Linked DNA regions of Homo sapiens: all the other regions are linked to region 2. The links come from fine-mapping of genetic effects on gene expression. A gene starts in region 2. Each other region holds a variant in brackets. All regions are shown on one strand. Distances are between the middles of the regions. Region 1 overlaps DNHD1 (dynein heavy chain domain 1). Region 2 holds the start of DNHD1 (dynein heavy chain domain 1). Region 3 overlaps DNHD1 (dynein heavy chain domain 1).

What was found. PIP is the estimated chance that this variant, and not a neighbour inherited with it, causes the effect. A credible set is the group of variants that fine-mapping cannot tell apart.
Region 1: its variant is the best candidate, but not a certain one, in a credible set for the expression of DNHD1 in whole blood (TOPMed, PIP 0.72).
Region 3: its variant is the best candidate, but not a certain one, in a credible set for the expression of DNHD1 in whole blood (TOPMed, PIP 0.61).

The regions. Positions count from the first base shown.
Region 1 is chr11:6,542,032-6,552,166 of GRCh38, reverse strand. DNHD1 (dynein heavy chain domain 1) reads right to left here. Exons shown (of 43, transcript NM_144666.3): 19 at 7,921-8,046; 20 at 7,496-7,593; 21 at 4,501-7,375; 22 at 4,127-4,304; 23 at 3,765-3,957; 24 at 3,234-3,522. Among named protein-coding and RNA genes, the nearest start is that of DNHD1, 50 kb to the right of the region's middle. The variant G/A (reference allele first, on the strand shown) is at 4,375.
Region 2 is chr11:6,491,439-6,501,573 of GRCh38, reverse strand. DNHD1 (dynein heavy chain domain 1) reads right to left here and starts at 4,294. Exons shown (of 43, transcript NM_144666.3): 1 at 4,243-4,294; 2 at 3,907-3,989; 3 at 2,613-3,803. The coding sequence starts at 3,358.
Region 3 is chr11:6,530,810-6,540,944 of GRCh38, reverse strand. DNHD1 (dynein heavy chain domain 1) reads right to left here. Exons shown (of 43, transcript NM_144666.3): 13 at 7,761-7,918; 14 at 6,772-7,264; 15 at 2,435-2,562; 16 at 2,135-2,333; 17 at 1,632-1,726; 18 at 862-1,069. Among named protein-coding and RNA genes, the nearest start is that of DNHD1, 39 kb to the right of the region's middle. The variant G/T (reference allele first, on the strand shown) is at 4,146.

The sequences.
Region 1 (10,135 bases), 51 kb before region 2:
TGTATCCATTTCACCTAAGTTGCTAAATTTATTAGCATAAAGTTTTTCATAATTTTCCCTTATTATCCATTTTTTAAAACTTTTTTTTTTAAATGAGGGTCCCACTATGCTGCCCAGGCTGGTCTTGAACTCCTGGCCTTAAGAAATCCTCCTGCCTAAGCCTCCCTCCCTAGTAGCTGGGATTACAGGTGCATGCCACCATGCCTGGCTCCCCTTTTTTTTTTTGGAGACGGAGTCTCGCTCTGTCACCAGGCTGGAGTGCAGTGGTGCAAATCTCAGCTCACCGCAACTTCCACCTCCCTGGTTCAAGCAATTCTCCTGCCTCAGCCTCCCGAGTAGCTGTGATTACAGGTACATGCCACCATGCCCAGCTAATTTTTGCATTTTTAGTAGAGACGGGGTTTCACCATGTTGGCCAGGATGGTCTCCATCTCCTGACCTCGTGATCTGCCCTCCTTGGCCTCCCAAAGTGCCGGGATTACAGGCGTGAGCCACAGTGCCCGGCCCTGGCTCCCTTTTTATCCTTTTAAATATCTTTAATAAAACCTCTTTCATTCCTGATATTCAAAATTTATGTTTTCCTTTTCATTTCTTGATTTGTGTTAATAGGCGATTGTCAATTTTATCTTTTTCAAAGAAACAAAATATGGCTTTGTTGATATTCTCCATTGTTTGTATGTTTTTCTATTTCACTGATTTCTGCTCTGTTCTTTATTATTGATTTCCTTTTAATTGCTTTGGGTATAACTTGCTCTTCTTTTTCTAGAGTCTTAAGCTGAAAATTTAGGTCATTGATTCCAAGCTTTTCTCTCTAAGATAGATATTTAAAGCTATAACCTTTAGTTGCATCTCACAAATTTTGATATGTTTTGTTTTCATTATTATTTAGTTCAAAACATTCTCTAATTTCTCTTGTAATTTCTTTTTTGGTACATTATTTAGAAGTGTGTTAATTTTAAAGAATTTGGAAATTCTCTAGGCATCTTATCAATATTTGTATTGTTATGGTCAGATAAAATATTATTTAAAATGTTAATCCTTTGAAATTTGTTGAGACTTATTTTGTAACCCAGCATATGGTCTATCTTGGTGAATGTTTCATGTGCATTTGAAAAGAAGGTGCATTTTGCAGTTGGTGAGTATAATGTTTTGTAAATGTCAGTGTGTTGCTAGTGTTATTCAGATCTTTAATGTCCCTACTTTCTTGCTCCTTGTCTTATCAGTTATTGTGAGAGGCATATTAATTTCTTAATATGATTTCAGATTTACTATGTCTCTTTTGTTTCTATTGGCTTTTTTTCCCTATACTTAAATGTCTATTTTAGGTGTGGACACATTTAAGACTTTTGTCTTTCTGATGAGTTGAATCTTTCAATTATGAGATGTCCTTTTCTATCTCTGGTAATATCCTTTGTCTTAAAGTGCTTTGGTATTAATATTGCCACATCAACTTCCTTATGCAAACTATTTCTGTAGTAAATATTTTGCATTAAAAACTTCTTTTAATCTATCTGTGTTTTTATATTTAAAGTGCATCTTTTGGACAGCGTACAGCTATATAGATCTCAGGGTCAGTTTCTATTCTATTGCTTGCTTCTTCTTGACAGCAGGTCACATTATTTTCTGGGGGTTTTTGTTGGCATGTCTATTTATTTTTTATTTTATACTGGATGTTCTGGTGGTTGTCACTCAAGGACACCTTTTACATTCTGCCAGCAGTAATATTCTTCACTCTACAATGTTGCTGAAGTCTCTTCTCAGCTGAAATCTCTTCATATATCTGACTGTACCACTCTTTACTCCTTCTATTGTCTCTAATTTTGTGCAAATTCATTGCAAAGACCAAATAATATAGCTGGAAGGAACTACAGGTTTTGGAACCAAATAGACTTGAATTTTAATCTTGGTTCTGACACTTCATAGCTAGGGTATCTTGGGCAAGTTCTAAAATCTCTGTCTCTGTTTCTTCATCTTTAAAATAATTGCAAAAATTCCCCATCTTACTTGGCTTTTATGAGCACTGAAGATGACATAGACATATCATAGAGCACATAGTAGATATTCAATAAATTGTACTGGCTATTATTAAGTACGAATACATCTGGTTCAAGTTTTCTACATCTCATAAGAGACTTCGCTGTTTAACTGGATAGCCTATCCAGTGCTTCAGCCCATTGACTTCCTTGACTCCAACAACCTCTACCTAAAATTCACTTCCCAATCCCATGGCCATATTTAGAAACTCTCATCATCTAGAGGCATACCACTTTAGAAACTTTACACTTCAATATCCCAAATTTTTATCAAGATTTTTCTCCTTTCCTTTGTTATCTTGTCTTCTACAAACTTTTATTGAGCACTTACTTCCTGTTGGGTCTACCAAAATGAATGAGACAAATTTCTGTTCTCTGTTCTCATAAATCTCCAAGTGTGGTGAAAGGGACAGATAGGCAAGCATACAATAATAAAATCATGGTTATCACAGATTATTGTACAGAGCACAGGATGGATATCTAACCGAGCCTATGGATCAGGCTTCCTGGAGAAGCTACTGCCTTAGGTAATTTAGAAATAATAAGTAGAATTTAGCCACATAGAGAAGGCAGAGAGGACAGCAATCCCAGGGTCTAGAGGAAGCCTGACTTGTTAAGTCCAATTAGAGAGAGTGTAAGAGGACACAGAAGAAAGCCTCATCACAGAAAGCTTTGTAAGAGCATTTGTCAGATTTCCAAGTAAAGATCATCTGAACCATGGAAATAAGTGGAAAGATTCAAGAAATATGAAGGAGGTAGGATTGAAAAGACATGGTGACTGGATATTGGTGAAGGAGAATGAGATGTCAACAAGATTTCTGGCTTACATGACTGGCTGGATGGTGAAACTAAGAGGACAGACAGGAGCAGATTTTGGCCGCGGGGAGATGATGAGCTCAGGGTTGGGTCTGAGGTACCAACAGGACAACAAGGTGGAGACGTACAGTAGACAGCTGGATAGACAGATCTGGTGCTTAGAAAAGAAGTGAGATTGGACACAGAGATTTAGCAAAGCAGAGATGAGGCCATGAGAGTGGATGGGATTGTTCAGGGAGCATATGTAGAATGAGAAGATATTAAGAACAGAACACTAAAGTTAGATCTACAGACATATATTTGAGAGTCAATGAATATTGCTAGGGATTTTATAGTCTCAAGAGATGACAGTAGCTCCTTCCTTCCCTCTTCGCAGCTCCTCACCAGAAGTGGCTAGGTGCAGGTCCTCCAGCAAGAAGAGGAGGGAGGGTTTAGAATCCTGGTGATGCCCAGGCTGTGGGCTGGCTTGTGTTTGGCCCTGGATTCCTCTGCTCAGCAGGAGACGGAGGTGGGAGGAACTGAAGGCAGGGTGGATGGGGCTGTATATGTAAGGGTGATGTGGCTCTACCAGCACCTCCACAAAGGCTGACTTCCCTGTTGCTGCCTCTCCAGCCAGCAACACTGGCTGTCCCCCTGACAGAAGCAGGTCCACCACATACAAGAGCCGTTCAGTCTGCAAGACAGAAGTGGGACTTACTGCAGCACCTCCAGTATAAGACAGTAATCTAGCTGAAAATAAAAGTCTAAGGGACTTGTCCTAGAGCTGTACTTGGAAAATATTTCATGTATTCTTGTGATTGTGAAAATATATCAAAGAAAGGGAGCAAGTGGGCCTCAGCTGATCTTTGAACATGGATTACCCCTAAAATAAGTCCTGAAGTTCTAACCCCAGCTCTTGCCTTACTGTCCTCACACCTGGATAGAAGGGTGAAAGGTGCCCAAAGTTCCTTTGATGTGGCTGCTCAGGTATTGGCCAGTGAAGGGGACCAGTGTTCCATCTTCAGGGCTTACATGTAGATCAAACACCAAGGCTGAGGGTGGTGGCTCAGGGTAGTTGGAGAGGCGACTAATAGAATCCCTTATGAAGGTATCAAAGATGGGCCAGAACCTGCTCAGATGGACACACAGGCAAAAGCGTCAGACAGTTACAACACTTCCATTTATGACACACTCACACACTCCACCATACCCTAACAGTGATGTCATGTGGGTTTTTACTTCCATGGGCCAGTCCATCTCAGCCCTCTGCATCTCCCATCCCCCATCCTGGTAGGTACCTGGAGGGAAGGTGGGCTCCAAAGCCCCAGATCAAGGCAAAAAGAAAACTGCTGACAGCCAGCAAGTGTTCCCTGCACTTATCTGGCACATCGTCACTGTCAACCTGGGACCGGTTTAGAAAGCTGCTTTTTGAAGACCTGAAGCTTTGGGCCACAGGATCACTATAGCTGAGGTCCTCTGTGAAAGTTGCCATGGCCACGAGAGGAGCCCCAGTAGAAAAAGGTGGAAGGTGAAAGAAAGAAAAAAG[G/A]TTGACAGTATTACTTTTCACTCCTGGCCCAGATCCACCAAAGAACACACGCCCCAGGCTCCAGCTATATACCCCAGCTACCCTTAAGGCCCCATCTCTCTCAAACCAGCCCGTCCATCTTCCCACCTGGGCCAGGGGCCTTCTCCTCCTTTAGGCGAAGGTGGAGGTCAAGCAGACTATGCAAGATGCGTGCCATGCTGGTAACTTCTGCCACACCTGCACAAACAGCCTGCTGCCCGTGTACCTGCAGCAGAGAGCTGACACCTTGGCAGGTGAGGAATCGCAATGTTGCAGGCACCAGAACCTCAGCCATGTGGTTGAGCTCAGCGACTGTCCGGTGCTGCAGGCGGTACTCATAAGGAAGGGATGCCATCAGGGCACTAAGTATACACTGCCAAGTCTGCTCTCCACCACACCAGACTAGGGCACAACAGCCTACCACTGTGGGGGATATGCCTGTTGTGTCAGCCACCTCCATCAAGAGAAAGGTGCCTGGGGGTCGTGCTATCTGCTGTCCACTGGGGAGACTAAGCTGGGGAAGCTCACTCAGGAGGCAAGTGATGGAGTCCAGCCAAGCACCATTGGAGGCTCCATCACATATTATCCAGTGCTGGATCCCGATTGATTCCTCTGTCTGCCTCTTTTGGCCCATGTTGTTACACTGACCGGCTGCACGAAGTACCTTGGGAAAGATGCCATGATGCCAGCAGGAGCCCTCTAGCCATCCCAGGAACTCCTGGGGGCTGAGGCCACTGGGGTACAGGTGGGTAATTTCCACAGGCTGGCAGCCTTGGGTTGAGGTGTCCTCCATGGCTGCCAGCCGATTCTGGATCTTAAATAAGCTGTGCCAACAAGTGGTCTTGCCGCTGCCCGCAGGGCCCAGGAGCAGAATGCCTGAGGCCCGGCTCAGGGCCTGGCTCAACTGTTCCAAGGACCCCAAAATGTCAGGGCTGGGATCCAGACCTACCTGTTGCAGTTCCTCCACCACCAATGGCTTCATCAGCTTGTAAGTCATAGGTTCTGCCAGCACTTGGCTGGCGCTAGGGAAAAGCGCACACAACAGCCCTCGGAGGTTGTGCAGGTGGAGCCCATTGAGAATGCTAAACAGTGGTGAGCGCAGTAGGGCAGCCTCCTCAATGGCAGCTAGGCTGCGAGGCTTCTGGCACTTCGGTTCCTCCTTGGTCACATTTAGTGTCCGTATTGTGTCTTCCAGTATCTGCTTGAGCAGTGGCAGGCGGCAGGGCAGGGGCCCAGACACCAGCTCACGCTCTAGAGAGAAGAATTTGGATAGGCGGGTAGCCATCTGGAAGGCATCCCTCATCCCTGCACCCAGCAGAGTCAGCTCTGCCACTTGCCGCAGATCAGGCAATGCCAATGCCACAGGCCGCAGCAGCAGGTGCAGGTTGGCAGGCACAGCAGAGCTCAGGGCACGCAGTACCAGGAGACAGCCATAGCCAAGGCGCACAGACACGTGATGTTTTTCAAAGAAGCTACTGCCAAGGAGCTGGGGCTGGGTGGGGTCTATGGTGCTTGTGTTTCGGGAAGCCTCCTGGTACAGTGGGGCATACAAGTGGTGCAGTTCACCCAGGCGCTGGCCCAGGGCAGAGAGCAAGCCAGGGGGCAGCTGATGAACTTTCTCCAACAGCAGCCAGGCACCACCCTGCAGGGCACCATTCAGATAGTTGCTCAGGCATTGAGCCTCTATCTGAGGTGAGCAGGGTAGCATCACCAGCTGGCGGCCCAGGGCCTGTGCCAGGCTGTTCACTATAGCTCTCTTGCCCACACCATTAGGACCCAGTACGGTCCCACAGGCCACCTCCTCTAGGGCCAATAATAGTACCAGGGCTGGCCGTTCAGGCAGTAGGCTGGGTAGAGGCCCTAGTCTAGGTCCCAGATACTCGTAATTGTACAGGAAGGACCTGCCTAGCACATCTATCCAGCATGCCGCTGGTGACAGAGAGGGTTCAGAAGATGCAATAGTCTTAAGACTCTGTAGGGGGCTTTTGGGGATTATGTGAGGTGAACCCAAGTGATACTTGAGTTGGCGGACCCAGTGAAAGTCTGTGAGATCACTGACCTGGTGCTGTTCCAGCAGCTGTGCTATATCCCGGTGAGTCACTGCCATGACCAGCAGGGCACTGAGAAGGCTGGTCTGGCGGACAGAAGGCAGGGACTGCCCACCTTGGGAAGCCCTCTGGGCCCGCATAAAATTCACCAGTACCTCAAGCTTGCGCATATGCATGGAGACCATGGCCAGGGTACCCCACTCAAGCAGAGCCTCCTCCATCTCGGCCCGCCATACCACCTCCTCTGCCACCAGCACACACTGCCATGGGAAGGCCTGGACTAAGTCGATCCAGTGCTGGACATACAGTTGCAGGTACAACTTGTTTTGCTTGGGCAGTTGCTTGAGGGCCTCACCTAGAGATGGGCCTCGAGCAAGGCGAGCAGCCACACAGCCCTGCAGCATGTGCACCAGTGCCAAGCGCAGACACTTCTCCAGAGAGGCCAGCCACTTAGGGAGATCTGGATGCAGAGGAAGGGGACCCTGCAGCTTCACCTCCTCCCCACCTGCCCCTAGCACTGCAAGTGCCTCCACCTGAGTCTGTGTGTTTGGGCTTGACTCCCAGTCATCTGTGTTTTTCTCACCAGTTGGGCAAGACCTGAAGCTCACAGCATGCACATGAGGAAAGCAGCGTCGTACCCATAGCTGGGCTTCGCATGATTCCAGTCGAGCAGCCAGCAGGGCTACCAGCTCACTGTCACTAAGGAAGAAGAGGCGGGGGAAGTGAGCACACACCCCATAGAGCACGCTCTCCAGACTCATGATGATGCCCTCCAGCTCCACCGATCCTGCTTGCAGCAGTTGTTGCAGCTGCTGGCCTTGGAAGTAAGGGCTCCTCTCGGCACTGGGCACTACAAGTGACAGAACCATGGGGTCAGCTACAGAGATGCGCATCAGGGTTCGATACTGGTCATCCATGACCTTGAAACGAGAGTTCTGTGGTGAGGGAGAGGATAAAAGTGAGGGCCAATATGAAGTGGCAGCTCCCCTTTCCCACGCTGAGCCCTGCTATTCAGGAACCCTTCTTGCCCTCTCTGCCTCAACCCCCTTCCCTACCAGGTCAGCATTAGGAAACTGGATCTTCATCTCATGCAGAACTTTATTCAGAAAAATCCACTTCTGCTGGAAAGTCAGCCACACCTCCAGCAGGGCACCTGTGTAAGCAGCCAGAGGAATGCTGGTGGGAAACACTAGGGTTCTACCTTCTGCAGGGGAGTCCACCCTGCTCCTGACCTCTCAGGTACCCCACCAGCCCAAGCAAAATACTCTGCCCAGCAGGACTCAGGGAACTTGCTTGAGGGAGAAAAAACTTTCACTGTGAATAAAAACCTGATCTCTTCATCCCAAGAAACAGCCCTGAAGGAGGTCCTCACTGTGTTCTTCATATCTTCTCCCACCCAACCTCCACCTCTCACCCCCATCCCTCTGGGACATCCTGCCTCAGGTCTCACCCATCAGCCTGGCTAGAGGCCTGCACTTACCCAGGCCATGCATGATGGCCACCCACTCCAAAGCTATTTTGTTTAAATCTCCTGACTTTTCGATGGCCAAGATCTTGGACAACACCTGAAGACTTTCCTGGATGGAATCCTGCAGGTTGCTGTAATCTAAGACAGAAAAAGCTGAACTGGCAGTCAGATGAGGCAAGGGCCGGGGCTGGGGGAGAGAAGAGGAGACCAGGGGAACCTTCCAGGAGAGGCAGTTACAGAGACCCTGATGCCCTTTCTGTCTTTTTCTTTCCCTTTTTTTTTTTTTTTTTTTTTTTTTTTGAGACAGAGTCTCGCTTTGTTGCCCAGGCTAGAGTGCAATGGCACGATCTCAGCTCACTGTACTATGCTTCCTGGGTTCAAGCAATTCACCTGCCTCAGCCTCCTGAGTAGCTGGGATTACAGGTGTGTGCCACCATGTCCGGCTAATTTTTTGTATGTTTAGTAGAGACGGGGTTTCACCATGTTCATCAGGCTGGTCTCGAACTCCCAACCTCAGGTGATCCACCCACCTCAGCCTCCCAAAGTGCTAGGATTACAGGTGTAAGCCACCATGCCCAGCTGCCCTTTCTGCCTTTAAGGATTCCATCAGCCAATATGTAGAGCCAGTAAAGCACTGGGGTCTCAAAATGGTGAGAGAAGAAGCTCCTCCTTTCCCAAGGCACTGTGGGCAGACTCCAGGCCAGCTAATTTCCCTGACTAGCTGCTATGAGTATCCACGTAACTCCATGGAAGTGCTTTGTAAGAACTAGAGCCTCTAGCCCGGGAAGAGGGCTGAATGGCTCCAGGACCCTACGTAATATTTCTATAGCAAGAATGCCCATTCTGTCTTAAAACGGGTCTTGGTAGAGAAGCTGAGAACAAACTTTTCTCTCATAGTCTTAGTGCTTGGCTCCCTGGTGCTGCTTAAAGAGTTATCCCTTCATGCCACAAGTGCTTGGTAAGACTAGGGCTGGAAATGAGGTAGGGACACTAATTGGGGTAAAAATGAGAAGAATCAAGAAAGGAGGTTTATTCAGACACATGTAGGACTCTCCAAACATCCCTGGTGGGAAGAAAACTCATTATCCTGCTCTCAGAGTCACACAACTTCTACTCCACTCTCTAGAGAAAACAGCACTGGACTAATGCTTTCAGCCCCTCTGTCTATCTTCTTCCCTTACTCTTCCCCATGTGAGGAGGCAAAGAGGCCCATCTTTTATGCTCTATGGGATATGAGGCAGGCCACAGTCCTCTACACAGCTACCTGTGTAACTGTACTTCAGCTTTTCTCTGCATATCCACACAGACCTCAAGTTCTCAATTAATTGGGGGAAGATTATGACGAGGTAGCACGAAGTCTCACTTGACCTAGATCCAAGCTGTGTCTGCCAACATGATACATAAAAAGCACAAACTTCCTTGGGGGTGATGGTTCTGATAGTATACTTTCATTTTCATATATATCCTTGTCCTCATTTGGTTAAGAATCTAAAGGGGAGATTAATAATTTGTAGGTGTGCCCAATCCTGTAACAACCTGTCTTCTTGAGGTAAGAATTAAATATATAACAAGTCCATCATTTGGGGTTTATTTGGGTGAACGAAGTCACCAGCTTCATGGTGTGTGGCCACTACAAAGATGTGGTCCTTGGTTAACATGCCCGGAGTTAACAGGAAAAGAAAGCCTGGTACAGAGAAAGGAGAGAACCCATAGGGAGAAACCTCAACCACACAAGTGCTTGGTGCAAATGCTAGCTTAGAGAGAGAAGGGAAAACTGAAAAGGAGCAAAGGTGGAGGAAGGGCTGTGAGCTCAGGAAAGACTGGTAGGACCCAGGCTGGTATCTGAAATTATGCCCACAGGCATCCCAAGGCCCACATTATCCAGAGCCTTTACTTTGTATTACGAATTTTTATTTATTACTTTTAGTAGCAGAGAAATCTAAGGATGAGGCAGAAAAGTGGTAGAGATCAAGTAGGAGCAGACTGGCAAAGTGTGGAACCAGGGTCAGAGATGGGCAAATGGATTAGCATAAAATGTGCTCAGGACAAAAGTGGGAAGACAATCTCCTTTCAATCTTGGTGCAAATGTTAACTGCAGACATCCAGCCTTTGTGTCAGTCCACACCAAAACTTAAGAGTCCTTAATAAGGGCGATGTGAACAAGGGGGCTGGGTGCCATTTATCAATGTGCTGCAAATGGCTGGAAAAGGCACCCCTCACCAAATAC
Region 2 (10,135 bases):
AGCCATTAGCCAATTCCCTCAACTTCAGTTGCCTTCCCCCACACACTTATCTGTCCCCCGATTTCAGAGGAAGAGGTATCCTTTCTTCTCTGTAAGATTAATTCCTCCATCAGTGCTCTGGACCCCTTATTCTCTATGATATATTTTTAATCTACTCTTCTTCTTACCTTAGTCTATTTATTCATTTAGTCTACGAATATTTATTGAGCACCTACTTCTCAAGCACTGTGTTAAGGGATATAAACATCTCTCTATCAAAAAAAAAAAAAAAATCCCTACCCAGACACCAAAATTCTTTCAAGCTGCTGCCCTGCTATTTGTCTTTTCCCTTCAAGCTAAGCTTCACAAAAAAAATCGTAAAATGCGATTTCCACTTCATCTTCCATTCACTCCTCAATGCACCACAATCTAGCTTCCTCCCCACAAAACTTAACCTCTTCCTTGTTACTACATCCAATGAACATTTTCATTCTTCTTACTTGTCTCATTTAACATGTAATACTACTGACTGCTCCCTCCTCCTTGAAACTCTGTTTGATGTTTTTGTTAATCTAATCTAGACTTGAACACTCCCCCCACATGCTTTCCCCCTAACTACACTCCCTCTCTCTCTCTCTCCCACCTGCAGAGAAGCAGCCAGGCAAAAGACAGTATTCTTTTGTTTTATAGCACTTATTACAATTTGTAATTATATTTTACTTGTTATCAACTTAACTATATCTCCCTAACTAAACTGTAATACCTCAAGTGAAGGGATTGAGTCTGTCTCATTCACTTCTGTATCCCTAGCATCTTGCAGATCCTAATAAATGTAGCTATCCAACACTTATTGAATGAATGAATGCCTGGCAAACCACTCCGGGAGAACGTAATGCAAATTAAGCCATATTAGCTAGACCTCAGAGGTTTACTGCCAGGTTCAAAGGGAGGGCAAAGAACTTGATCCCTTCCCAACATCTCAGCCCATGCCAATTCAGTCAAGTTCTCCCAGGAAAGGAAACTTGTACTCAAGGCACAGGGCAGCTCTTTGAAAAAGGAAAAGATTCCAATAGGGCCACCATAAATTTATGGCATTGGCCACCTCCCATTAGGGCCCCAGGAGCCTGCCTATCTATCTAACATTAGGCTTTAATGGAAAGACTTGACCCAGCCATAAACTTACAGCAAAAACTGAGGAAGCCAACCTTAATTAAAGGTAAAACTAGCCTTCTTCCCGAACAGTAAATGTGCCACAGACAGCTGCAAAGCATTGTCTAGAAAATGAGGCCAGAGGACAAGGAGAATTCCAAAACTAAAGTTAAAAAACTCTCTTGGGCACGGTGGCTTATGCCTGTAATCCCAGCATTTTGGGAGGCCGAGGTGAGCAGATCACTTGAGACCAGGAGTTGGAAACCTAGCCTGGTCAACATGGCGAAACACTGTCTCTACTGAAAATACAAAAATCAGCTGAGCGTGGTGGCATGAGCCTGTAATCCCAGCTACTCGGGAGGCTGAGGCAAAAGAATCGCTTGAACCTGTGAGGCAGAGGTTGCAGTGAGCCAAGGTCAGGCCACTGCACTCTAGCCTGGGCGACAGAGTGAGACTCTGTTTCAGAAAAAAAAAAAAAAATCGAAAGTTAGAGAACGCTGAGAAGAGAAGGTCTCTGTAAGCATTCTGAAATCCTGTAGAGAGCTCTGATAGCCAGATATTTTAAAAAAGAAAACAATAGGGCCGGGCGCAGTGACTCACGCCTGTAATCCCAGCACTTTGGGAGGCAGAGGTGGGCGGATCATGAGGTCAGGAATTCGAGACCAGCCTGGCCAACATAGTGAAACTCCGTCTCTACTAAAAATATAAAAATTAGCTGAGTATGGTGGCACGTGCCTGTAGTCCCAGCTACTCAGGAGGCTGAGGCAGGAGAATCACTTGAACCCGGGAGGCGGAGGTTGCGGTGAACCGAGACCATGCCGTTGCACTCCAGCCTGGGCGACAGAGTGAGACTCTATCTCAAAAAAGGAAAGAAAGAAAGAAAGAAACAAAAGAAAAATATATCACTCAAGGGGCCAGAGTGCCCACACTGGCAGGGCAAGAAGAAGACTCTGGAAGGGTCAAAATGAAATTCTATCCAGTAGTGCTGCCAACTCCACTCTGCCTTGGAGCCGGTTTAAGTCACATAGACATGTGGGAAGGACACTCGGACACACATTCCCCAGGGGTACCTTGAGGGAAAGACCCAACATCCAGGAATCAACTCACAGTAGGCCCAGGCAATGTTCAGTGATTATGAATGAATTATAGAAAAATAATTAAGGAGACTTCTGACATCATCTAAGAAAAAAACCTGGAAACTGAAAAGTCAAGCTGTTATTCTAAAGCTTTGGCTGCCTCATAGCTGACTTCTGATTTTCATTAATTTCTGTATTTCTCTATGGGGATTAAGACTAACACCACTGGGTTTATTTTGCAGAGAAAAAGGAAGAGGAAAGTAGCCTCACACTAGCTTTGTGTGGAGTTGGGCTAATCCCTGTGATAAACAGAGAGCTGGATCTAAACTTCCAAGTGACCCCAGAGGCACCCATAAAACAGCAACTTTTTCTCCTCTGCTCAAGCCCTAGACTGAGTCCCTCACTTACCTGGTCTCTTTTCTTCCAACAGGCTCCACCTCTGCATTGTCAGTGTCACTGCTTTCATACCGTACAGGGATGTCCGCTGCCAGTGCCAAGGGAAGGAGACTAAGTCCATCCAGCCACACAGCCTCTTCTAGGGCCACCTGAGCACCAACAATGCCCAGGCAGCGCTGTAGCTCAGGCAGTGTCAATGGTCGCAGCCAGGTGGCCAGCTCCTCCTTTACTTGCTGCCTGCTCCACTGGGCCTGCACAAAAGGGCAAGCTGGGCATGGGGGCCTGTGATGGAGCCTCCGCTTCTGGGGACAGCAGTCAGCATGGGAAGCACTGTCTAACAAAGAGCTGTCTGGAGGAAAGGCCTGGACAATGGCACCTAGCAGGTCCAGATGGAGGTGGGTTTGGACCCAGGGTGCCCAGCAGTACAGCTGCTCCAGGAAGGGCAGCAAATCAAGGTGGCCAACTAGCAACTCACGATATGGAGGCAGTAGACCCAGTACTGCATGAAGATAGCGCCAAGCTGCAGGGCTACTGTCCTGCAACACAGCTGAGAACAGAGTTCGGAGCTCAGCTAGCAGGAGTTCCAGCACTGTGGGCTGCTCTGACTCAGTCACTGGCTTCACGAACTGCCTCTGTTTCTGCTGGCAGGCCAAGGGCTGTTCTTTGCTGTCCAAGACACATATGGAGTGCCAAGACTTAAGGGAATCAGATGATGTCTCATCAGAAGACAAACCTACCCTCCTCTCCTCCGGGACCATGAGGAGCTGGGCATTCAACTGCTGTCGAAGTGACCTTGCCCATAGCTCAGGCTCCAACTGCCAGTTCCAGGATGCCAGATGCGGGGCCTCACCTGCATGGGCCAGCCCAGCAGAGGGGCCAGAGAAGGGACCTCAGGCTCTGGGCAGGGGATGGTCAGAGTCAATGGGGTTAGGAGGAAGAAAGGACCTGGGACAGGGAAATAGATGGAGCTACAGAGCAGAGCCAGACCAGCAGAGAGCCTTTCCTGAGACCCTCAGGCCCTCCCTACTGCTTCCCCAAAGACTCTGGTAAGGAGCAGGCCTAAGACAGACGTGAGAGCCCTCCTTGCAGAAGAGTTCCTTCTTACCTCCCAGTACCCTGTCCCCCTCACCTGGCCTAGGGGGGTTAGGAGGCAAGGCAAGGGAAGAGAGCCCGATCTGCTGATGAGGTTTCATTGAAGAGTGCCTGCTGGAGCAGTGAATGAACTTAGACTTGAGTTCCAGTCTGAGGCTCACCCTAATCATAGCCACCCATACACGGAGAGACTCGCACACAGACGTGCAATCACCTGAAGAGGCAAACTGACACACCGACAGAGCTCACTCTGAACCTCGGTCACAGCAAGGAATCTGCACTCGAGCTGGCGATCGCCTGAAAAACGGGTTAACAGGTCGTCACTCGAAGGCAGCAGAGCCCCAGTCCCATGACGTCTTCGCCCACAGCCTAAGGAGGTCGTGAAGACAGAAAGCCGAGGAGCAGGCACAGCAAATGATGGTCAGGATGCAGGTAGGGGAAGACGTTAACAGGCAAAGGAGGGGGCTGGGAGAGCGGGGAAGAGGAGGCGGACTCTGTGGGAGGGGGTCCTAGGGAACAAAGAGAAATGGATCCGGAGCCGAGGACTCACCCGCAGCTCCACCCGCACCCAGCTGTTAGAACCGTTACAAGATTCCAGAAGGACCGAGTCTTTGCCAGGAGCATCCGGGGGAGCCAGAAAGAGGAGGGGCCAGGGTCCGATATGGGCGGGGCCGAGAGGGCAGAGCCCAAGCCTGGAGGGGCAGAACTAGGTTCAACCTGTGGGCTAAGGCTTGCCTGGGACAGGGACCTGTAGAGGACCAGGCGGGGTCTGAACTGCACGTGCAGTACGGTTGACTCGGGAGACTAGCAATCCAGAGGGTGTCGTAAGCAGGTGTTTATATCCATTCGCTGAGTATCTAAACTAGTGCCAGGTCTTTGGTATGTCTTTGGTACTCCCCCATCCCCACCCCCAACGTATCCATCTACCCTATCCCACCTCCCCAAAAGAAGCCCGAATAAAACAAAATCCTTGATCTCAAGGAGCTCAACATCTATTTGGCACGGGGGGAGGGGGATTTTTTGGGGAAGGGCTTATGGAGGGGCTAATTTTTAAAAATTAAGTTGAATGAGGCCGGGCGCGGTGGCTCATGCCTGTAATCCCAGCATTTTGAGAGGCCGAGGCGGGTGGATCACGAGGTCAGGAGATCGAGACCATCCTGGCTAACACGGTGAAACCCTGTCTCTACTAAAAATACAAAAAAATTAGCCGAGCGTGGCGGTGGGCGCCTGTAGTCCCAGCTACTGGGGAGGCTGAGGCAGGAGAATGGCGTGAACCCAGGAGGCGGAGCTTGCAGTGAGCAGAGATCGCGCCACTGCACTCCAGCCTGGGCGACAGAGGGAGACTCTATCTCAAAAAAAAAAAAAAAAAAAAAAAAGTTGATGATTAAAATAAAAAAAGAAATTCAGCCCACCTCTCCTCTGAAATCAGATTAGTATATCCAACTGCCTACTTAATGTCTCCACCTGGAGAGCTTATAGGTATCTCAAACTTAAAATGTCCAAAAGCAGGCTCCTAACCACCCTTTCCCCACCAAAGAAATGCTGCTCCTTTCACTGTCTTTCCCACCTCAGTCAATGGCAAATCCATTCTTTCTGGTTTCTCACACCAAAACCTTGGAGTCAGCTTTGAGACCTCTTCCAAACCCCTTCTTTCTCTTTCCCTCTTCTTTTTCCCTTTCTCTTTCTCTCTCTCCCCCTCCCTCCATAAGTAATCCTTCAGGAAATTCTGCTGGTTGTGCCTTCAGAATATATCCAGAATCCAACTATTTCCCACCATCTTAAGTACTACAACCTTGGTCTAAGCTGCTATCATTTCTCACCTGGGTTTTTCCACAGCCTTTGAACTGTTCTCCTTGCCTCAGATCCTTCTCATGCTTCTCACCATTGCCCCTACAATCCATTCTTTTTAGAGCAGCCAGTGATCCTTTTCAAATATAGGCAGATCCTATAACTCCTCTGCTCATAGCTCACTAATGCCCCCTCATCTAATTCCTTCAGCTGAAGGCCAAAGTCCTATCATGGCCTACAAATTGCTGATAACTGCCTGCTACCTCTGTAGGCTTCTCTCTTCACATTCACACTCTACTACTGCTGTGCCTGAATCACACCAGCCATACCCCCACCTCACAGACTACATACAAGCTGTGCTGTCTGCTTGTGTATCAGTTAGGAGATACACAAGTTATGACTGTTATTTATTTATTTTTTTGTAGAGACAGGGTCTCACTATGTTGCCCAGGCTGGTCTCGAGCCTCTGGCCTCTAGCAATCCTCCCACCTCACCCCTAAAGTGCTGGGATTACAGGCGCGAGCTATTATGCCCGGCTGTGATGGTTAATTTTATTTGTCAATTTGACGGAGCTAAGGGATGCTCAGATAGCTGGTAAAGCATTATTTCTGGGTGTGTCTTTGAGGGTATTCCTGGAAGAGATTAGTATTTGAATAGGTAGACTAAGTAAAGATCATCCTCACCAATGTGGATGGGCATTGTACAATCTGTTGCCTAAACAGAATTTAAACAGGCAGCTGGTGGACTTGCTGTTTTAGCTGAGACATTCATCTTCTGTCCATGGACATCAGTGCTCCTGGTTCTCAGGCCTTCAAACTTGGATTGAATTCCACCACCAGATTTCCTGGTTCTCTAGTTTGTAGACAGCAGATTGTGGGACTTCTCAGCCTATCAGTTCTGTTTCTCTGGAGAACCCCCACTAACGCGCAAGTTTTCTGGAGCTGCATAACAAGTTATTACAAACTAAGCAGCTTAAAAACAACACCTATGTAGTACCTCACAGTTCTGTAGATCAGATGTCCAGCATGACTTTACTGGATTCTTTGCTCAGGGTATCATAAGCCTGAAGTCAACATGTTGACGGGGCTACTCATCTGGTGGCTCTAGGGGGTGGGGGGTGTGGGGGGATCCACTTCCAAGCTATTATTGTTGTTGGCAAGATTCAGTTTCTTGCAGTTCTAAGACTGATGTCCCTGTTTTCTTCATGGCCATTAGCCAGGAGCCACTCTCAGGTCCTAGAGGCCACCTGTCTTCCTTGACATGTGGTTCCTCCATTTTCAAGCCAACAACAGTGCCTCTAACCCTTCTCATGCTTCACACTTTTCTGATGTCCCCTTCTGCAACCATAAAGAAAACACTCTGCTTTTAAAGGGCTCATGTGACTCATGTGACTAGATCAGGCCCACCCAGACAATCGCTCTTACAGTCAACTATGCCATATATTATAACCTTCTCACATAAGTAAAATTTGTCACATTCACAGTCCCATGGAATATGCAGCGTATACTAGGGAGATATATACTAGAGAGCAGGAAATCTCAGAGACAGTGGTCCCCAACCTTTTTGGCACCATGGACCAGTGTAGTGGAAGACAATTTTTCCACGGACCAGGGGAGGGGTTAACGGTTTCAGGATGATTCAAATGCATTACATTTATTGTGAGCTTTACTTATTTTACTATCACATTGTAATATATAATAATTATACAACTCACCATAATGTAGAATCAGTGGGAGCCCTGAGCTTGTTTTCCTGCAACTAGACAATCCGATCTGGGGGTGATGGGAGACAGTGACAGATCATCAGACATTAGATTCTCATAAGGAGCATGCCACCTAGCATGTGCTATTCACAATAGGGTTCATGCTCCTATGAGAATCTAATGCCACCAATGATCTGACAAGAGGCAGAGCTCAGGTAGTAATGTGAGCGATGGAGAGTGGCTGTAAATACAGATGAAGCTTCACCTGCTCACCCACCACTCACCTCCTGCTGTGTAGCCTGGTTCCTAACAGGCCATGACTGGTACCAGTCTGTGGCCCGGGGGTTGGGGACCCCTGATCTAAAACTTCTACCTACCACACAAATGCTGTAATAAAAAGACCCAAAATATCATGGCTTAAACATGATAGTTTATTTTTTTCTCTCACATAACCATCCAAATATAAGTACTCTGAGGCTACCACGGTAGCCTTCAGTTGTTCTGCCTTCTCCAAGGAAGTAGTCCTCATCTTTAAGGTCCAAAATAATTTACCACCATGTGTGCCACGTCCCATCCCAACTAGTGAGATGGAGGGAAAAGGAAAGGAGAAGGCATACCCTTTCTTTTAAGGGCACAGCCTGGCAACTGCACACATCAATCACATGACCAAGCCTAGCTGTAAGGAAAGCTACAAAATCTAATCTTCATTTTCAGTGGTCATATGCCAACAGAAAATTTAGAGGTTCTTTACATAAAGAAAGGAGACAATGGATACTAGAGGACCACTAGTGGTTTACACAACTAGTTGAACAGTAGAAGAGTGAACACTTCTTCAAGATGCTCTCAAGGCTTACTCTCTCAATTCTCTGCTCAAATGTCACCTTATTAGTGAGTTCTTCCCTAACTGCCCAACAGAAAATAGCAACTCTCTCCCCAACATCCTTATCCTCTTTACTTGCATTACTTCTCTCCACAGCACTTATTACCACTTCATATAAATACTTATTTATTTCCTATTTCCCCTGACTAGAAATATAAGCTCCATGGTAGCAGAGATTCTGATTGCTGCCTACTCTATCCCCAGCTCCTATACTAGGCACCATGAGTACATGATCAGAAAATATTCATGGAAAAAAATACATAAATGTATAACAATCTTCATTTGTGAGTAAGAAGATGGGCTCTGGAATCAGACTGCCTGGATTGAAATCCTAACTTCATCACTTACTAGTCATGGGATATTTTACCTCAGTTTCACTTTTTGAAAATGAAGATAATAATGTCTACCTTATAGTATTGTGAGGATTAAGTGAATTAATGCACACAAAATGCTTTAGAATAGAGCCTGGTAAGTAGTAGACATTTGATATAATTGTTAAGTGTTTAGTTGTTATTAATTTTGACATAACGATGAACAAGACAAAGGATTCAGTGAGGGCATGAATAAAGAGCATGGACAACTCTTTCATAAAAGGGCAAGGAACGGTACCTGAGTCACAATAGTCCTTAAAGTTTAAGGCCTTGAAACAAGAAAAAGGTGGGTGCGGTGGCTCATTCCTGTAATCCCAAAACTTTGGGAGACTGAGGTGGAAGGATCACTTGAGCCCACGAGGTTAAGGCTGCAGTGAGCCGTGTTCATACCACCACACTCCAGCCTGGGCAACAGAGCAAAACCCTGTCTCAAAAAACAAAAACAACAAAAAAACACAATCAAAGCTCTTCAGACAAAGACAGAAAGGAATTCTGTTCAGCAAGCTCTGCTGAACCCTCAACACTGCCTAAAACTCTGTTTCTTTTGTCAGTTCACTCTTCCATTCCGGGCAATCAGTATTTCAAACCTCTTGTACTCTCTCATCTTCCATTTCCTTCTGCTTTATTCTCAGATGATGACTTTACCTTCTATTTGAAAAAAAAATGAGATGCTGTATTATCAATCAGCATTCTCCAGAGAAGCAGAATCAATAAGATATATATATTCATATAAAGACATATATTTTAAGAAATTGGCTAACACATGTGTGGGAGCTGGTAAATCCAAAATCTGTAGGGCAGGCTGGCATGATGGAAACTCATGCAGAAGTTAATGATGCAGTCTTATTTTTTCCTCTTTTTTAAATTTTTATTTTTTTAGAGACAAAACCTCACTCTGTTGCCCAGGCTGGAGTACAGATCATAGCTCACTGCAACCTTGAACTCCTGAACTCAAGCAATCTTTCCATCTTGGCCTCCCAAAGCATTCGGATTACAGGTGTGAACCACTGCACCTGGCCCGATGCTGCAGTCTTGAGGCAGAATTTCTTCTTCTCTGAGAAACCTCAGTTTTACTCTGAAGGCTTTCAACAGACCCACATTATCAAGAGTAATCTCCTTTATTTAAAGTCAACTAAGTGTACATGTTACCCATACCTATAAAAATGCCTTCACAGTAACACCCAAATTAGGGTTTGATTAAATAACTGGGTACTATAGCCTAGCCAAGTTGACACACAAAACTAACCATCACATGCTATTTAAAAGGAATTCTCTCAATCTCCAAATGCTAAATTTTAAAATCATTTAGATCTGCTCTTATCCATTCCTCCCTCCTTACTGTTACCAATTAGAGATGCTCTTTCTCTCTCTAAAGGCAAGTTCTATACCTTTGCCCTGGGACTATTCTTTCTTGCCTCCTTTCACTCAACAAATATTTATTGAGTATCAACTGCATCAGGCACTGTTTTCAGTGTTTGGTTATATCAGTGTACAAAACAGAAACAGTGACAGAAATTCCTGAGTTATGGACCTTACATTCGAGTGGGAGGGACAGATAATAAAGAATAAAATGACACTTTGGGAGGCTGAGGCGGGCGGATCACGAGGTCAGGAGATCGAGACCATCCTGGCTAACACAGTGAAACCCCGTCTCTACTAAAAATACAAAAAACTAGCCGGCAGTGGTAGTGGGCGCCTGTAG
Region 3 (10,135 bases), 39 kb before region 2:
TCTTGTCATTAGGTTAAAACGTTAGTAAATAAATGTACATGTATGTATTTTAAGCTAAAATAAAAATCTTAAACTATGTATGCATCATTAGTTTTTTGGATTCACCAACTGGGTTCTAGTTGCGTTGAATAAGAAAATTCTCCTCTATTGGCAATGCCCTAGCTATATCATCTTGGATGCTTATGTAAATGCTGTTCCCTTTGTCTGGTCTGCCCTTCTCACCTGGCAAGTTTGGCAAACTCTTACTCCTTCAAAAAGTCAGTATAAGGCCTCTGCCTAAAGAAGACTTCTCTAATTCTCTCTCTGGTTCTTTGAGCTGGTCCTCTCTCTGAGATTCTACTGCCCTCAGTAAGGTGCTCCATTGTGTTTATCCCTATAGTATTGTCTGTCTCTCCTCACTGGACTCAGAAATTTCTGGGGGACAGGGATACTGTCTGTAAGTCTCAAGGTCTCCTGTGTTTAGCACAGAGGAGGCAGGTTTGATGAGGGAGAGAATAAAGAAATGAATTAATGAATAAGGTATAAAATCAGACAGCAGGGTGCAATCTAGAGGACAGAGCATTGAAAGGTGTAGATAACTGACTATGAGGAATTTCTGAGGGTACCCAGAAAGGGGAGGACCTTTGCTGAAGGACCCAGGCATTGAGTAGAGATGGGTGAGGGGAAGGGGATCCCAAGGAGATTAAGACAGTAGGGGGGCTACATGGAAGACACTGTCTCAGAACAGACTAATGTCTTAGGCTGTCTAGTAAGGATGGGGCCCTGGCTAGAGAATCAGATCTGGCAGGCCTTGATGGATATGGTGGATGAAAATGGCCCCCAGCAGGGGGCTTTCACTAGGTCACAAGGTCTGGGTCTCACCTGAGAGGATGAAGGTGCCACTATCTTTGTCCACTACCTCCCATTGGGGGCTGCGGAGCACCTGCCTCTTGGAGCGCTCTGAGGCTGGGGGCTCGTAGGGTACATGCAGGATGAAGTTGAGCAGGCGCAGCTGGCGCGCTTCCCAGTACCGCTGCAACCGCCGTATAGTCTCTTGGGCATGAATTCGTTCATTTTCATTCTGCCAGACCTGGAACAGCTGGGTCTCAGGAACCAGGACTGGGTAACTGCTTCGGGGACAGGCTTGGAGCCGAGACTTGGGGATTGGATCTGAGGCAGAACTCAAGGGCCAGGGCTCAGGAAAGTGGAGGTCTCAGAGATGAAGCGAGAGTGGGACCATCAGGCTTCAAAGATAGGCCATCGGCAGCATCTAACTACCTTGCCCCAGGGCCACTGCTTTGGAACCCCCACCCACTTTTGCAAGGCTCCAACTGAGCAAATACCTCAGTCAGCTCGCACCCTCTGGGGACAAGACAGGTGTTGGGGGGCACCTGCCATTCTGTGTGCCCACAACTTCGGGGCTGCCACCCACTTCCTTCCCCCATCAGGGACATACTCTCAGTCACTGGGAGTCTGGAATCACACAAGAGATCCCCATCTGGAGACTTAAAGAAACTGTTCCTGCCCTTCAGGCAGGTTAGCAGGCTCAACCCCACATTAAATCACATGCCAAACACCCACCACCCTTGACTGGCTTTATTACAGGTCCTGGCTTTGGACCACCTCCCTCGCCCCTGTACTGAGGGCCCCACCTGGTTGATTCGATCTGCAAACTCCAGCAGTGGATAAGTAAGCAGCTGGCCCAGCGTTAGGAGTTCTATAGTTTGGAGACTGCCCAGCCCAAGGGCTGGAGGTAGAGAAAACAAGTCAGAGCAACACCCAGTATGTGGCAGAGTCCAACCCATATCCCATATCCCAGAGCCCAGCCCAGCCCAGCCCAGCTCAGACCCCAGATAGCAGATCTCAGAGCACAACACAGAGCCAACAGCTTAGAACTCAAGGTCTAGAGCACAACTCAGAGCCCAGAGCTAAGGCCCCAGCCCAAGCCCAGCCACCATCAGCAGAGAGGAGGTAGTAAGGGAAGTTAAAAATTTTTGTCCCAGTTAAGGAAAAGAAATTGAAATATGTGGGAAAGGTAGGGAGAAACTTGGGGATGAAAGGTGTTTCCAGCAGGAGCAGCAGGAAACTGAGTTGCTGCATCGCTCTAACCTCACATATTTCCCTTTCCCCCTCCTCTGACATTAACCAAACATACCACGCAGGAGACACTGGCAGTTGAGGCTCTGTGGGTGGAGGCTGCCCAGCTTAGTGAGCAGGGGCAGGTAGCTGCGAAACTCCCCCAGGATGCGCATGCAGTGCTGCAGCACGGGGCTGTGCAGCTCCAGGGTTGTGCTCATCCGTGCTGCCTCTGTCAGCCAGCCCTCTGTCTTCTCCTGGGCCATAGCTGGGCTGAACTGCAGGGAGAAGGGCTCACTGTCAGCTTGAGACTCTTCCCCTCCCCCACCACTGTAGTCCTCCACTCCCAGTCAAGAGCTCCAAGGAAGGGTGTCAGCACCTTGGCAAAAGCCATGCACTTCCACTCGCTGATGTTTTCGGAGATGACTCGGTACAGGTGCCATATGCGCTGCTGCTGCACAATAGGACGTGTCCCACAGATTGGCAAGGGCACAGGAGTCTCATCCTCTGTGGGGGAGGGCTGACTTGAGACCTGGGCTACTTGCAGTGTTGGGAGGGGGGTGGTGGAATGATCAGTCAAGAGCCCATAATGACAGAAGGTAGGGTCCAGAAAGTGATGGTTGGGGGTGGGGGAGGTGGAGTTCCAAATTGTTTGGCTCAACAATGGAGGTGGGGTTAATCCAAGGAACAGTTACTCCAGGGAAAGACCATCTGGGAAAATGTGATGGCAGTGAAAGGGAAGAGTTCCTCTTTAATTAGTCTCCATCTCATTCACTCCATTCTAGTGACACTGGACGCTTTACTATGGCTGAGATGCACCAGATATGCACCCTCCTGCTAAGGGCCTTTGACTAGCAGTCTATTCTTTCTGGAACACTCTTCCTTCAGAGAATCACATGGCTCATGCCCTCACCAGCTTCAAGTCCTTGTTCAAACAAACAGCATCTTCTTTTTTTTTTGAGACAGAGTCTTGCACTGTTACCTGGGCTGGTGTGCAGTGGCGTGATCTCGGCTCACTGCAACCTCTGCCTCCCGGGTTCAAGTGATTCTCCTGCCTCAGCCTCCCAAGTAGCTGGGAATACAGGCGCACACCACCATGTCAGGCTAATTTTTGTATTTTTAGTAGAGACAGGGTTTCACTATGTTGGCCAGGCTTGTCTCGAACTCCTGACCTCGTGATCCGCCCGCCTCGGCCTCCCAAAGTGCTGGGATTATAGGCATGAGCCATTGCGCCTAGCCAGACAGCACCTTCTTAATGAGGCCTATGCAGGCTATCTGGTTAAAAATTCCTAGCTACCCTTCCCGGCATTTTCAACCCCTCTTACTCTGTTCTATTTTTTTTTTTTCTCTATCACTTATCACTTTCTTATATACTACAGAATTTGGTTATCATCATTGTTTATTGTCTTTCTCTCCCAACTAGAAGTTTGGGTCCATTAAGAAAAGCATTTTATCATTTGTTCACTGATGTACCTCAAGCCTAGTGTACACAGCAGTCTCTCAACAAATATGTGTTGAATGAATGAATGAATGAATGAGCGAATGAACTGTCAGCCCAAAAGAAAGTTCAGCAAGATGAATATAAAAAAGATCTGGCCCACATAGAGGACCTGTCATGTTTACCTCCGGCCATTATCCTCCACCCCTTCATCTCACAGGGTACTACATTAGTTCTTAATCAGTTACTTATAGTCAGTTGTGAGATAAGTGTCAATAGGAATTTATAATTAACAATAATTATAATATCGAGGTTTGCAATTTACTTAAAAGACAACAGATATCTCATTAACTTGAACTCCAGTTTACTTTCTTGAGTGGGACAAAAAGTGATAGAGTCACACCCAAATGCTGGGCCTCATGCATCTTACACATGTGCACATCATCCATTTTGGAGATCTCAGAGTATTAAAAAGCTGGAATCACTAGGCTATCAAAGCTCTGATCTGACAAAAAGTAAAATGACAGTAAATCTAAACTCTTCCAGTCTTTGTCTAAACTCAAAGATATGGCTAGAGTCCCATACAATCTTTGACAGCAGTTGTTTCAACATCAAATATTAGACAAATAAACAACTTCATCTGTAAGAAAGA[G/T]CAGAGATATCATCTCCAAACACATGAAAAGATAAAGACAAACTGGGGATTAAGAGCAAATGTCCTTTGACAGACATTTTGTGATATCTACTTGATAATTTCCATGCATTTTAAAACTTTTTATCTGAAAATGAGTTCCAATCTTCAAAGTTGTAGGAAAAAGTAGTAAAAAAAAATTGTGTACCTTCTATCTTCCATAGGTATAGATATATATCTATACTGTTTATCTTTGCCTTTTGTTGACATTTTACCCATTTGCTTTATCATTTGCATTCACATGCTCTGTGCATGGGCATGTGTATGCACATATACACACACACAATTTTTTTTTCTGAACTATTTAAGGGCAAGTTACATAAATACTCAAGTATGCATTTCCTAAGAGTAGGGATATTCTTTTATATAACCACAGTGCAATTCCAAATTTCATATATTATATTGATACAATATTTTAATCTACTGTCCATATTTCAGTTTTGTCAGTTGACCTAATAATGTCCTAGATTGCATTTTTTGCCTCAATTATAGCATCTGGTCCAGGGTCAAGCACTGCATTTGTCATGTCTCTTAGTTTCTTTTAATCTGGAACATTTCCATAGCCTTTCTTTCTTTTGTAACAGACATCTTTGAAGTATACAGTCCCCTTTTGCCATTTTTTTTGTTCATAGAAAGTTCCTCATGTTGTGTTTTTATGGTTTTTAAAAATGATACTCATTCTCAGCTGGACTACTACATAAGTGATATTGTATCCTTCCTTCTCCAGTATCACATCTGAAGGCAGATCATGTCCCTATGTCCTTCATTGGTGATGTTAATTTTTAATCACCTGGTCAAATTATTGTCTGATTTCTCCACTAATTGTTGTTTCTTTTTCTTTCTTTCTTTTTTTTTACAACAAATAAGTGATCTCTGGGAGAAACTCTCAAAGACAGTGCAAATATTCTGCTCCTCATCAAATTTGCCCTAGATTTGGCATCTGTTGATCCTTATCTGATCTGGTAATTACCATGATGGTTGCAAAATAATAATTTTCCCACTCCAGCCTTCCTTCCACATTTATGCCAGTCAGCTCCTGGCATTTTACTGTAAGCATGAGTCCTCATTTCTCTCTCATTATCTATTTATTATTACTACGCATAATAAATGCCTTTACTTCAATAGCTTAGAATTTATTATTGTACTTACTTTGGTGATCAAATTGTTCCAGATTTAGCCAGTTGGTATCCCTTCTGAATCCTTGTGATATGCTCCCATCACTTTTTTAAACACTTTAATACTTTCTTACTTTCTGGTATAAAATGACACTTTAGGTTCATCTTGTACCTACCCTGCCACAGCCCTGGAATCATCCATTTCTCTAAGGAGCTCTGGTTCCTTTTAATGGGGAATGGTGTTTGTTAGAAACTAAGACCTGAGCACAATGTGGCTTCTTGCTACTGGGGTTTCTTTGCTTCATGTCCTCTTCAGCAGATAGAGATAGCAAATGTGTGCACATGTATATACACATAAACACACAGTTACATGCGTATACATGTGTACATAAGCATGCATACACATGCAAAATGTGTGTTTTAAAATGCAATAGAAATACAAAGTGATACCATAGGAAATGGAAGCTTATAAAACAAGCTCACAACATTTTTCCAGAACTCAGAGAAAAAGAATAAAGGAATGACTGATGATAAAGAAGATAAAAGCAATGAGTGAGAGAGATTCAGTAAATCCAACATACATATAAGAATTCTGGAAGGAAGGCCAGGCGCAGTGGCTTACACCTGTAATCCCAGTGCTTTGGGAGGCTGTGGCAGAAGGACTGCCTGAGTCCAGGAGTTCAAGACCAGCCTGAGCAACAAAGTGAGTCCTCATCTCTACAAAAAATACAAAAATTAGCCAGGCATGGTGGCACACACCTGTAGTCCCAGCTACTCAGGAGGCTGAGATGGGAGGATTGCTTGAGCCTGGGAGGCTGAGGCTGCAGTGAGCTGTGATCATGACACTGCACTCTAGCCTGAGATCCTGTCTCCATTGTTTGGTAATGGCTCTTATATTTGCTCTGGTCTCCTTCCAGAGCCCACAGAGTTCTTTAAGAACAGAAGGGAACCAGCTTACCTGCACCACTGTATGAAAGAATTGAGACCAATAGTTCTGTCCTGGCCTCCTCCTGTGTATTAGTGAGGCCCTCAGTAGCCTCCTCTCTATACCACACTGGCTGGAGGAAGTGATCTGCTAGAGCATCAAGACCTACTCTTGTTCGGGGCCTGCTGCCTGGTGTAGGACTGTGTTGAACAGGGCTACAAAAAGGCTACGTTCTATAAGGAGAACTTACATTTCTCCCACACATGCTTTTAGCCCCTGACCCCATCACATTCTGATGGAACATTCACTTGTTTGCCTTCCTTACCAGACTGTGAGCCCCCATACCCCCACCCTAAGCACAACACCTGCCATGGTCAATATATGATGTTTTTGTCCTGAAATTTTCATTTATAAAAGACACCAGTGAAGGTGTGTGATTCCCAAGGCTTGCTTGGGGTCATACAGGACACAGAACCCTGAGTTCCAACTCTTACTTCAGTTGAAGGGTCTATCACAGAGTGATAATGGAGGGTGCAGGGATCCTCAGTACCAGTGAAGATGGCATAGGCGTGGTGCAGTTCACTGAGGTCGCTGACTGTGTTCTGGAACTGACGCTCTAGGGAGACGAGCTGGTGCTCAGTACTCCTCTGATCTTGTGTGGGGTCCATAAAGGGACCGGAGAGGGCCTTCGCAAGCAGGCCTTCCAGCTCTGCCAATGCTGCTGCCATCAGCTGCTGCAGCTTGGGCATAATGGCATGTCGCTTGCTGAGCAGGAACTCTGAAGCCTGGCTTTTCTCAAACTGAAATGCCTCCCACATATCCAGAAGCTGTGGGGCAAGCAGAGGGCAGTGGAGTAGATGTGGTTGTGGGGGAGGAGGGCAGGGAGGGATGGGTGACTCCCCGAATTGCCTTCTCACCGAGATGTCCAGTGCTTCATTCTCAGCACTAAAGAGGCTAAAGTGGTTGCGGATGAGTTCGTGGAGTGCCCGTACGTATTCCATTCGCTCCTCCAGCTCGACGTACTGTTCATTGGCTTCATTCAACTGCAGGAATTACAGCATGAGACCGGCAGCCCCACAACCCCATGTACCTCTTTGGTCCCATCCCCAAGGGGAACTCCCACCTTTTGGAGTGAAGTCTCCAGACCCAGTTGCAGCCTTGTAATCAACTGGAATCAGGGGCAATCTCTCCTGAGGGATCTCTCCAGAGGGATCAAATCTCTCTCTGACCCAGATCTCTCTGGTGAAGGGTCCACTTCTCACCCACCACCCCATTACCTTGATGACAAGGCAACAATTTTCTATCTGACTGTCACAGAGAGCACAACTCTCTCATCACACCAGGGCCTCCCTGTGACATGAGGAACCTGAGGGCCACATGGACAGGGTAAGAATTAGCAAGGGTAGATCTCTTAGGCGAGCACAGTTTAAGAGCATCAAGCTCTGCTGGGGGCTCAGCAGAGACCTGAAGAGAGTGTGCTGAGCTTTTGAGCAGGATGGGCCCTGAATAAACTGGGAAGGATGGATGGGGAGAGCCCACCTTCTGGGTGCACTGTGCAATGGCATGAATATCTGAGTTGATGGTTCGGAAGATATGCATGAAATCTGTGAGCTCTGTCATGAGTTGTTGACTGAGGTTCCAGCACTCATTTTGCACGTGTGCAAGAATGTCCTTCCTTATGCTGTTCAGCTTGGATTCTGGAGACAGGAGAGTAAGGTGTGAGGGGACGCATAAAAAAGAAGGGGTGCTGGGGACAGTGCTGTGGTCCAGAGTGGGAGTAGGCTGAATGGCAGGTCAGACCATGAATTATCTCATTTAATGCTTGTTGAATCCCTGCTCAATGTCCAGTCAGCTGCTATGCACTGGGGACTGTGCTCTATACTGGTAGACGAGAGCAAATGAATGAGACAGAAAGTTTCCCCACCCTGAAAAGCTCACAATATGAGGCAGAGACAGACATACAAATGAGCAATCACAAATCAGTGTGATAAATCCACTGTGAGTGCCTGGAGCCTTCAGCCAGTATAGCTAAGAGGTGGGGGTGCCGGGGGGTATCCTGAGAAGGCTGGGCAAGGCCCCTTCAGAGAAGGGAACACTGGAGTTGGATGTGTTGAGTATTAATTCTCCAAAAAGATGAAACAGTGTGTGCAACAGTATGGAAATGACATGTTTGTGAATAGCAGAGTATCCTAGCAGACATAAAAGTATTCTGGTTTTGGAGTCTTACTGCCCTTGCTCTAGAAGAAGGGGACCAAGAAGGTAGTATGATCTGCCTTTTGTTTTTAAGGATTAAAGTAAAGAAAGTCTCAGGTGGATAAGGGGCTAGAAAGTAATCCTGGAAGCTGCCCTTGGCAGTATGAACAACTTTATTATCTCAGAGGGCAGGGATAACACCCATATGATACCTCATAAAATCTAAGATCCCGTTGTAAGAAGCACCATTATTTTATATACCACTAACAAAGAAAAAAAACTGATGCCATCTAAACTCTAACACATCTTCAATCATGAGACACCTTTAAAGTTCAGAGATGTTAAAATATGCACAGAATAGGAAAAATACAATATAGAAATATGGTACACCAAATAGAGTATAGAGTGCTTTCTACATACCAGACACTATTTCAAGTACTTTAATTATATTTTATCCTCACAAATTCCCTTTGAAGTAAATACTATTATTTTACAGATAAGCAAACTGAAGCTCAGAGAGGTTATGTCACTTGATCAACATCACACAGTGGCAGAGCAAGGATTCAGACTCAGGCAGCATGGCTCCACTTCATTATATTTTAAATATAAACATGTTTATGTTATAAATATAAATGTAAACATAAAAATATATGTTTATAAAAAGTATTTAAAAATATTTTTTATGTTATGTGCAAAGTAAACTGACCGATCCTCTATTAGCATCTCTGCAACTAGTAAGTAAAATAGTGAGTTTGGGGGACAGATAATTGAGACATACTGGGTATGTCACTTTCAGAGACTTGGAGGAAGTAACCAAGATGACTGGGTACTAAGACCTGATAATAAGAAAACCTGCTGAGAGGAAGCCTATTGAGGGACAACCTATATCAAACAGAACATGAAGATCTAAACTCATCCTTTTTCACACTGTCCCTTTGGAACATAACAGTAACTAGGCCATTGCAATGCTGCCACATTTGTTTGCTTGTTTGTTTGTTTGTTTGTTTATGGTGCTGCTTTTGGACCAGTAGCAACAGGCAGATGAAGGCAGATGGGAGCTCAACAGTGACACCGTATGGTATAAAGGAGCAATGCATTGATAAAATACCAGGACTCCTTGGGATTAGAAGCTGGAGATGGATAAAAACAGATTTAAGAGATACTTAGGGGGCAGAAGAATGACAAGGATTTGGAGACAGGTTGGATGTAGTAAGGTCAAGGAGAGGGAGGAGTAAAGGGTGACCCCAAGTTTCTGGTGAAGCTAATTCGTCAGAGTGTATAATTACGCCATTTGTTGTTCAAGGGAGTTCAGGAAGAAGAGAAACGACAGAGTTAAGTCAGAGGGTTAGATAAAATTAGATCAGCAAGAAGGATGAGAGTAGATACAAGGGGATAAGGTGAAATGAAAAAAATATTAAGCACCTACTGCATGCCACACTCAATGCTAAGAGTATTGCAAATAATATCTTAGTCATCCTTACTATAACCCTGTGAGTGACTGTGTTATCATGCCCAGCTTACAAATAAAGAAACTAAAACACAGTAATCTGAAGTTACAAAGCAAGTGAAAAACAGACAGGGTTCTAAATCCAGTGCTCATTTCTCTCCACCTGCTCCTCTTAAAGAGACTAGTTGGTCCTGGATTGAGGATCAGGAAGCTAACAAACTAGAACAACAATAAGCTTTCTCAGCAGCAGTGAAGTAAAGCCTGACCAAAACAC